Regions from separate parts of the Homo sapiens genome. Here region 2 is linked to region 1. The links come from fine-mapping of genetic effects on gene expression. A gene starts in region 1. The other region holds a variant in brackets. All regions are shown on one strand. Distances are from middle to middle.

Region 1 (5,372 bases):
ATGAAACCGAAGCAACCAATAAGCACTGTGCAGCCCTGTGCCATGATGGTCCTATGACACTGCCAGCCTCTCCTCAGACAAAACCCATCACCACCATTAGGTCACAGAGCACCCTGTACTTTGGTCCAAAATTGCCAAGGCATTCATTATTAACAGCACTAAAGGCAGCCCTGCCTCCATTTGGGTGTATTGGTACTCTTTTCCAACTTCATTACAATTCTCCCCAAAGCACCTGAACCTGCTTCTGGGCAACAGTGTTTTTATCCACAACTTTCAGCTGTATATGCTCTGTGGCTGTCGGTCACCCTGCTCCCCTCACCAGCCCAATGCTTGCTCAATGGGCACATGAAGAAGCCATGATGGCAGAGGATGGAAGCTAGGAACTTGGCCCAACAGCATAAACTTCCCCTTACCAAAACTGAAAACCTGACTGGCTACTGCCTCTGCCCAGTGTCCAATTTGCCAGCAGCAGTAATCAACACAGAGTGCCTCCACAGCTCCTTCCTTCAAAGGCACTGGCTGGGGATGGATGGATAACTTATATTCGTTATGGGAGGCATGCAACACTGCCCTCACCCTTGGAACTGCTGAGAAAGGGTCTCCAGCCCCATTCACAGCTTCAGTGATCTGTCCATATGAGGAGGAGGCAGAGCTGAAGAGGAATGTACATGGGCCACAACATGTCCCCTCCCCTTCATACCATAACACAGGCGCTCAGAAGATACACTGGCTCACATGCACCCCACACACATGCACGTGTCTACACTTAACAACACACAAGCATGTACACATGCTGCCAGCCTCCCCACAATCCCTCAGTTACACACATACACATAAGTGACCAGACATCTCTGCAGGGGTTGTGACCTTTCACGTGCATTCGTCTCCTTAAGTTTGTACACTGAACCAGGCCCCCAGAGCTCACTGATACCCATTCTCCACCCCCCAGCTGTTCTGTTGGCTGTTATTTCCAAAGACTCCATCAGGCACATCTCCATCCTATCTAGAGTGACACCCACCAGAGGTGGCTACAGACTTGGGCCATGAAGACTACAGTCACTCCATGATGGAGCCATCTTCATGGCACATCCCCTAGACCAGGACACCCCCTCCTCCTCCCACATTCCAACCATTAAAAAATTGGACCTCTCTCTCTTCTGTCCAAGTCACTTCCCCACCGGAGGGTGGCCCTTGGCTGACGCCTGGCAAATAAGGAACAGTTTGTGGATAAAGCACCCTTGTGGGCAGACCGGGGAGAAGGGAGGTTATGCTTTGAGCCTTTCCCCACTTGGGTCTATTTTTCTATTAAGTATACATTGCAGTGGATAAAAAAAAACACACTAGTATGAAATAGGAATTAGGAAACCTTTTTTCTAGCCCCAGCACACTGCCATTCACAAGCTCTCTGACTTTGGACAAATTGCTCCCTCCCTGAGCCTCAGTTTCCCCATCTGTAAAATAGCCTCCGAGTTTCAGCCCTGCTCTAAAAGTATCAGGAATTATTCCTAGGCAAATCAATCTTCTTTGGAACAAGAATCATTACAAGAAGAAAACTCATTATAATGGCAACTAATCCATATTCATCTATTTGCTACATATTATCTTTAAAACTCTTCTTCATGCCGTTTGAATGCATGCCCAATATCTCAAAGGTTTGGGCTATATATTCCCACACTACACTAGGGGCTTCTGGTGTGGGACTGTCTCTCCCCCATCAAACTTTGTGAGCAGGAGCAAAGCCCACAACATTTCCCTGGAAAAGCAAGAGTCAAAGTGGGGTCAGGACAGACACCAGAAAAAATCTTGGAGTCTCTGTGCTAGAAACTGTAAGCCACCTGCTGAGCCTCAAACCCAATTAATTACCACTCTTTTGACCCTGCCAATCCCTGTTGTGTAAGACCTCTCTACTCTCTATTTCTCCCACTTGCTCCCCAATGATCTAGTTCCCCAGGTCCCACCTCTCCTGAATCTCTCCAGCCCACCCCTCCCTGCCGGAACCCCATTCCTGCCTCAATCTTCCCTGCTTCTGCACTCACCAGCCCCTGGGCCAAGGACAGAGAACAGCAACAGCAGCAATAGGGCTGGCGGCAGCTGAAACCCAGACTTGAGTCTAGGCTGGGAGAGGGGCAGAGTATGAGAGATAGGGGGGACTAGAGGGAGAGACTTGGGTAAACACAGAGATGAGGGCAAAGGCTGAGATAATGGGTTGGGCTGGGCTGGACACTGGGGCTTGAACAAGGGCAGGGAGTGGGATGGAAGGAAGGGCTGTGATGGGGACTGCAGCAAGGGACGGGGTTGAGCCAGGGCCTTAAGCAAACACTGGGAATGGGGCTGGGACAGGGCCTGGGCTGGGATTTGTGACAGGGGGTGGAACGAGGGCCGAGGCCGGGATGGGGGCCAGGCCAGGGGCAGAGACTGGAAGGGGGTCCTGGATGGGGACCCAGGCAGGGGCTGGGGCCGATGTGGGAAGCGGGGCGAGGGCGGGGCTGGGGGCCAAGGCGGGGATTGGGATAGGACGAGGGGCCGGGACAAGGGCTGGGCCATGGCCCGGGGCGGGGGCGGGGCCGGACAGGCCAGCGCGGGGCGCTCGCAGAGCTGGCCCGCGGCTCCGCTCCCCACCCCCGGGGGGTGGCCTCCGGTGTCCTCGCGGGCCCGGGGCGGGGGCCGGGGACCTGGGTAGGAGTTCAGGCCTGGGCGACTCCGGGCTGCGCTGAACCGGCGATAACCAGGCCCCGCGGCGGCGGCCTCGACTTGACGTCGGCGTGACGCCCCGCCCCCCGGCCGGCTCGATTGGTCCCTGTCAGTAAAGCCCGCCCCCGCCCTACTCTATTGGTCCCCAACTTAGTCCTGCTGGGCTTCGAGGACACACAGACTCCGCCCCCGCCTCAGCTACCCGAGACCCTGCCTTTCTCACCCCAAGCACAGAGCCCGAGGTCCCCTCAGATCCTCACAGCCCCCAACGACCGCCCCACAGATGTCTCAAAGGAACCCTATCCTCACAATCCCAGACTCCCCCGGACGTACGCACAGATCTCCGCAGATCCTACCCAAACACTCGCTCACAGAGATCCCGCAACACACACCCCACTTTTCAGAAGTAAACCCTCTGGGCTCGCCCCCTCGAGGCCCAATGCAAGCCCCTCAGGAGACCTTACCCACCGGGGAGGTGACCAGACCGCCGTTGCCACGGAGACTACTAGGCGTTCCGGTTGCCCTGGTGACCGGCGCCTACTCTCCTGGCCCGGGTTCCGGAGGCTTCAGTCAAGACCCTCCCTCATTGGCCCTAGACCCCTTGTCCCTACCCACTTCCCCAGGTCATGCCAGAGCTCCTTTGCGAAGTTCTGCAGATATCCAAGTCCCCTTCCCAGATAGCAGACTTTCAGGCAAGGCATTTCAACACTCAGCACCTGCAGCTGAGGCACATCCACAACCAAGAGCCTTTCCTCCCTGAGGATCAACACCTCCCCCTGCCATCCTAAGTCAAGGTCTTGACCTAAGGACTTGTAACAACCAAGCCAAAGCCCAGAGGGTAGGTGGTTTCTCCAACGGCCCTTGCCCTCTTCCCTCAAAGACATCTGTCTTTCTCCCACCCCTCAGTCCCTTCACATTGTTGTAGTAGTAGTAGTAGTAGTAGTAGTAGTAGTAGTAGTAGTAGTAGTTGTTGTTGTTGTTGTTGTTGTTGTTGTTGTTGTTGTTGTTTGAGACAGAGTCTCGCTCTGTCCCCCAGGCTGGAGTGCAGTGGTGCGATCTGGGCTCACTGCAACCTCCGCCTCCCAGGTTCAAGTGATTTGCTTGCTTCAGCCTCCCCAGTAGCTGGGACTACAGGCGCCTGCCACCATGCCCAGCTAATTTTTGTATTTTTAGTAGAGACTGGGTTTCACCATGTTGGCCAGGCTGGTCTCGAACTCCTGACCTCAAGTGATCCACCCGCCTTGGCCTCCCAAATTCTGGGATTACTGGCATGAGCCACCATGCCTGGCCCACATTCTGTACTTTTCATCCTTACTCTCCTCCTCCACCCAATTTCCTCCTCCCCTTCTCTTTCCCCTTCCTCACCTCCCATCTTCTGGTTCTCCACTCTTAGGCCCCTTTTCTCTCTAGCTGACTCTGGTCATCTTCCTCCCTGTAATCCTACCTCTGCCCCTAATTCCCTTCCCAAACATCCCCTTCAAAAAGGCTCTGATGCATTTAAGGAGTGATATATCTAGCGTCTCTGGAACATGGGGGTAAAGTAGGGAGCACGGAAAGTTAAGGCAGGAATCCTCAGGCTGTGTTGAAAATGATGACAGGCCTTGAATGCCAGGGCCAAGAAATTTGGACTTAATCCTTTAGACTGAGTCATGGAATGTTTTTAAGCCACAAAGTGCCAGTTGTTGGGCTTGCACTTTAGAAAGATCCTGATTGGGTCAGGAAGGAGGACTACATCCTTGCAGGATAAATTAGGTATATCCCCCTCCCCACCGTATCCTAGACTCACCCCAGAACAACATCAATTTATTTGTATTGCCATTGTTGGTTAATCGGTCTCTCTCCTAGACTCAACTCAATCTAGAGCTTAGCACAGCGGGTCAGTAAAAGCATCAGATTAGGCTCATTGTAAAAGTATAAGTTACATAAATCCATGAAAGAATGGGTGAATGGATTAAAATGCTGTGGATGGAAGTAGAGGGGCAAAGTTATTACACAAAGGCTGAAGATGATGAGAACTTGAATAAAATTGGAAGGGAGAGGAGAGAATGCATTTGGGGAATATTTAGAAGATAGGAAATAGAGTTATTGGTGCCTATTTGAAGATGGAGTCTAAGGGAAAAGGAAAAGACTAGGATAATTCCCAAAGTTCAGTTTTGCTGTCTGTGGAAACACTCAGTTAGAAATGACCAGCAGGGGCCAAGCACGGTGGCTCACTCCTGTAATCTCAGCACTTTGGGAGGCCAAGCAGGGCAGATCACCTGAGGTCAGGAGTTCAAGACCAGCCTGACCAACATGGTGAAACCCCGTCTCTACTAAAAATATAAAACTTAGCCGGGCATGGTGGCACACGCCTGTAATTCCAGCTACTTGGGAGGCTGAGGCAGGAGAATCACTTGAACCCGGGAGGCGGAGGTTGCAGTGAACCGAGATTGCGCCACTGCACTCCAGTCTGGGCAACAGAGCGAGACTCCATCACAAAAAGAGAAGAGAAGAGAAGGCCAGCAGGCAGGTGGGTATGAGTGTGAAGTACAGAGGTTGAAAAAGGTCTGAGCTAGAAATGTGAATTTAGGAGTCATTGGTACACAACTGGAAGTAGTTAAAGCTTTGAACATGAATGACATCATTAAGGGAGGAGGATGTGTGTGGTGCCTAGACAAAACCAGGCTGCGTGCAGTGTCTTG
Region 2 (5,372 bases), 53 kb after region 1:
TAAGCCCTGGAGAGGAGCTCTGATCCAATTATTAGCAACTCTCTCTAGAACGTGCAGTATTTAGTCCTCTTTGTCCCAGCTTTGGACCCTAGTCACCAATTCCAGGGCAATAGAAAAAAACCTTACTCAACATCCTCTATAATATATTGAAATGAAGGGAAGGTTATATGAAATAAGGAGCTCAACTGCATTCCTCAATGGGGAAGCAAAGTCATCTTTTGAGTGACAGAAGGAACCAGGAGTTTGAAAGTTCAGGCAGAATAAAGAAGACAGAGATAGACTGGAGATAGAACATCAGATGAAAGCCATGTATACTCTCTTTTCCCCATTAAAATATAAAAAGCACATATACATATTATTCCACAACATTTTACATATCATTTCAGGTGCACGTGGATCTAGGAGCTAAAGGATCCCAGATTAACAAGCCTTGGGCTTAAGAGAAAGCAAACAGGAAGGCGAATGTGCATTATTTGTGCATTCGAGAGGAGGGAGTGGGTATGTAGGCAGGCAAAGCCAATGCACAAAAGGAAGGCTGGACATTTAGGGACTTGCATCCACCCAGAAGCCATCCATGTCAGACACCAGTTTGACATGTCATATTATATTCCAAAGTATTCTGACTGCTTGAACACTTTTGTATATTCAGCTTATTTTTCAGTATAATGTTGTGATACATCCTTCTACAGAGTTAATATGATTAATAATTGAGGGACTTTAGAGAAGGGGCCAGAAATTTAATTATGCTTTAAAACGTAGCTTTTGGACTGGAAACTGTTAACAGCGAATACCTCCCTGAAGGGGAACAAGGTATCTAAAGGGCAAGATGAAAGAGACAGTTTTTTCATTATCTATCATTTTGTATACCTTTTTTTGACACAGAATTTCGCTCTTGTTGCCCAGGCTGTAGAACAATGGCATGATCTTGGCTCACTGCAACCTCTGTCTCCCGGGTTCAAGTGATTCTCCTGCCTCAGCCTCCCGAGTAGCTGGGATTACAGGCATGCGCCACCACGCCCGGCCAATTTTTTTGTATTTTTAGTAGAGACGGGGTTTCTCCATGTTGATCAGGCTGGTCTCAAACTCCCGACCTCAGGTGATCTGCCCACCTCGGCTTCCCAAAGCGCTGGGATTACAGGCATGAGCCACCGCGCCTGGCCCATTTTGTATAGCTTTAATTTTGTAACAGGTGTGCAAGTATGACCTATTCAAAATTTTTAATTAAAAATGAATCTTAATCATAAACAAGAAAGCATAAAAATATGTCATTGATATGGGGTGCTTGATATCTTGAATGTTTTAAAGGATGGCAATGGGACCTCAAAGGGAAAGATGGGATTTCTTTTAATAGATAAACACACATGGTGAATCCCTCATAGCTGTAGCAAGGAGATTAAAAACATCAAAGGGCAGAACGGTAACATCAGAGCTAAGAAGGCTTTTCTGAAAACCAGTCATTTGGAACCAAAAGATAAAGTATTACAAAAAGTATAATCCAAGATCAGTAGGTCTGAAGAAGAAGAGTTAGAACTAGAACATCTTACAAGAAACAAGTACCAGGCTGGGCGCGTTGGCTCACACCTGTAATCCTAGCACTTTGGGAGGCCAAGATGGAAGGATCATTTGAGGCCAAAGTTTGAAACCAGCCTGGTCAACATAGCAAGACCCTATCTCTCTCTCTATATATATAAAAATAAATAAATGAAAGAAACAAGTACAAAAAAAAAAAAAACCACAAAACATGATTTAGGCCTGGCACAGTGGCTCACGCCTGTAATCCCAGCACTTTGGGAGGCTGAGGAGGGTGGATCACGAGGTCAGGAGATCGAGACCATCCTGGCTAACATAGTGAAACCCCATCTCTACTAAAAATACAAAAAATTAGCCAGGCATGGTGGTGGGCACCTGTAGTCCCAGCTACTGGGGAGGCTGAGGCAGGAGAAAGGTGTGAACCTGGGAGGCGGAGCTTGCAGTGAGCCAAGATCATGCCACCGCACTCCAGCCTGGGTGACAGAGCAAGACTCTGTCTCAAAAAAAAAAAAAAAAAAAAGAAAAACACCTGATTTAGATAACTTCATGTATAATGTCATAAAAACAAAGCTAAGATTGGTTGGGGTATATCTGGCCCAAGAATAAATTCAATTATTTTGATTTTCCACAAAGCAAATTTTTTTTTTTTTTTTGAGACAGAGTCTCACTCTGTCACCCAGGCTGGAGTGCAGTAGTGCCAGCTCGGCTCACTGGACGCTCCACCTCCCAGGTTCAAGCGATTCTCCTGCCTCAGCCTCCTGAGTAGCTGGGACTACAGTCGCCCGCCACCACGTCCGGCTAATTTTTTGTATTTTTAGTGGAGACGAGGTTTCACCGTGTTAGCCAGGATGGTCTCGATCTCCTGACCTCATGATCTGCTCACCTTGGCCTCCCAAAGTGCTGGGATTACAGGCGTGAACCACCGCGCCTGGCCCACAAAGCAAATCTTGATCAAACACTAGACAAGATGAACTGTAGGGCTGACTTAGACTCTTCCTTGAGGGCCAAGGATGACACTTTGAAAATAAAGAAATAAAATATTTATTTAGATGAGAATAGGGGGCCAGATGCGGTTGCTCATGCCTGTAATCCCAACAATTTGGGAGGCCGAGGGAGGTAGATCACCTGAGGTTAGGAGTTCAAGACCAGCCTAGCCAACATAATGAAACCCTGTCTCTACTGAAAATACAAAAATTAGCCAGGCATGGTGCAGACGCCCGTAATT[C/T]CAGCTACTCGGGAGGCTGAGGGCAGGAGAATTGATTGAACCCAGGAGGTGAAGGTTGCAGTGAACCGAGATCATACCACTGCGCCCCAGCCTGGATGACACAGCAAGACTCCATCTAAAAAAAAAAAAGAAGAAGAAGGAGAAGGAGAATAGGCCAAAAACAACAGGCATGATCTATATGACTGCAAAGGTTCCACATGAGTAGTCGTCATTGTCCTAAACACCTGCTGGGTCACCAAGAGAGAAAAACAGAGGAGTAATTTGATGCCAGCCTCTCCCACCAGTGACAGCTAAGAACACCTCCCACTACTGAGGGTAGCTAAACTGTCTAACAAAAAGGTCAAAGAAGTTTGCCTATCATCTGTGATTCAGAGGAAAACAAGAAAAGAGCATTACTGTTTTTTTCTTTCAAATCTAGGCCTTAAGCTAACCTGTTAGAGGTCAAATAAACAGGCTCCAAAATCCCCAGATTAAGACCTATTTGCAGTAACAATAAATGTAAAAGCACCTTGTATATTGTAAAGCATTATATAAATGTCCATTATTATGGTAATTATTAGGGGTCCGTCATATCCAAAATTGAACTACATCCCACCATCAGCAGTTTGGGACCATATTCTGGAAGAGTAAAGCAAAAATTTTTTTAAAAGAGTTTGCTTGTTTTTACACTGTGTAAAGGTTTTCAAATTTTTCATCTCTTCATTGAAAAGTCTAATAAGAAGAGCTGATCAGTAGTATATGACCAAAAAAGAGAAACTGTTCAACTTAGTTCAATATCCTTAAGAAGTGTACTAACTAGGAAGAGACAAACGCAAGCTTATGTGGAAGCGTGTGTAGTAAATGGTGGCGCTCCTTCCCATTCCCTCCACAGATGGCTTCCTGCTGAGCTCAGTCAGGGAGGCACTGGCAGAAAACTGAACGAGAGAAGCCAGACTATCTCTTCCCCTTCTCTCCCAGCCTTGGCCAGCATCTGGACAGGCACTCTTTGGCCCCAGCTTCCCTAGAACAGGCCCCCAAAGTTCCGGCTTCTAAGTTACCCTGCCCCTTGCACTTCCCCTCCTTCCCACAGCCTAGGGAGAATAGAAGGTTCGGTTGCTAATCTTCCCCTGCATTGCCTCACCTTCCCTTGAAAGGCTTCTCAGCTCTTCCACCATATTCACAGCCAGCTAATTCTCTGGATTAAATGCCCTCTGGTTTAAATGCTTAGAGTGAGTTCTGTTTTCCTGTTTGGACCCTAAATCTGGCAGCTAAACAAAAAAAAATGAATTTACTGCACTGAGGGCAAAGACCCTGGCTCCAAAACTGCCAAGTTCAAGGTTCACTGCTATCAGTGTGGGTCCATCCAGATGGAGTAATATAGAGGAGTGAAGAGACAGAACTGATTTCCCTTTTCTCCCAAAGGAACACAGGAGAGAAAATGAATTTGGAGAAAACAGAGAGAAAAGGGTATTATAAATTTCCTGCTTCCCAATCCTCGAGACAATATGGGGAGGAGGCTGCTGAAAAAGACAAGGATGTGACTGAAGCCCCCCCCACCAAAATTTGGGATGAGTCAAAGAGGGGAATTGACCTGTATAAAAACCAAAAACACTGAAAAGATTATAGTACTCCCCTCCTCCAAAAAAGAAATAAAAATAAAATCAATAAATTCAAATTTCCCCATAGTAACTATTTCCATGTTTTTTTTTGTTTTGTTTTTGAGACAGAGTCTTGCTCTGTCGCCCAGGATGGAATGCAGCGGCACAATCTCGGCTCACTGCAAGCTCCGCCTCCCGGGTTCACGCCACTCTCCTGCCTCAGCCTCCCCAGTAGCTGGGACTACAGGCGCCCGCCAACACGCCCGGCTATTTTGTATTTTTAGTAGAGACGGGGTTTCACCGTGTTAGCCAGGATGGTCTCTATCTCCTGACCTCGTGATCCACCCGCCTCAGCCTCCCAAAGTGCTGGGATTACAGGCGTGAGCCACCGCGCCCGGCCAAGTACTTCCATGTTTTTAAAAACACAGCAACATCCTTTCCTCCAAATCTATTTAGTACCACTGCTTTGCTGGGACCCTAAAGGCACACACTTAGTCTGCCTACCGGGTCATCCAGCAAAAGGCCTGTGCAGCCTGCCCTGACCAGAGCTGAGCACAGTCAGTCTCTCAGGGAGGGAGGCGTTTGCTGCCATGGGGGAGCAAGGTGCTGAGGCTGAGTCTCCTGAGGACCCAGCAGTGGTAGAACTGGGGTATGACCCCTTCAGAGTCCCATGTACATTCAACGAAAACCGGAATAACCCAGATTAACCATTCACTTCATTCAACCAACTTATAATAATTTTTGACTGTTTTAATGAAATTTATCATCAGAGAATAAAGTTTGTGCACCAATACACATTTTTTAAAGTGGCTATAAAACTGAAATAACAATGGATTGTTTTTTCACATATAAAAAGATCTTCAGAAATAATAATACGGGCCAGGTGTGGTGGCTCACACCTGCAACCCCAACACTGGGAGTCCAAGGCAGGAGGATTGCTTGAGCTCAGGAGTTCAAGACCAGCCTGGGCAACATAGCAAGACCCCATCTCTTTTATTTATTTTAAAAATTAAATAAATAAATAATTTTTAAAAAGAAAC

Evidence for each region. PIP is the estimated chance that this variant, and not a neighbour inherited with it, causes the effect.
Region 2: its variant is fine-mapped to the expression of TMEM8B in whole blood (INTERVAL, PIP above 0.99).

Annotation. Positions count from the first base shown.
Region 1 is chr9:35,826,620-35,831,991 of GRCh38, reverse strand. It overlaps TMEM8B (transmembrane protein 8B), which reads right to left and starts at 2,764. Exons shown (of 13, transcript NM_001042590.4): 1 at 2,037-2,764. The coding sequence starts at 2,544. FAM221B (family with sequence similarity 221 member B) reads left to right here and starts at 3,260. Exons shown (of 7, transcript NM_001012446.4): 1 at 3,260-3,529. RefSeq lists an enhancer at 1,672-2,172 and a silencer at 2,458-2,907.
Region 2 is chr9:35,773,806-35,779,177 of GRCh38, reverse strand. It overlaps a transcript of RGP1 not described here. Among named protein-coding and RNA genes, the nearest start is that of NPR2, 15 kb to the left of the region's middle. The variant C/T (reference allele first, on the strand shown) is at 2,756.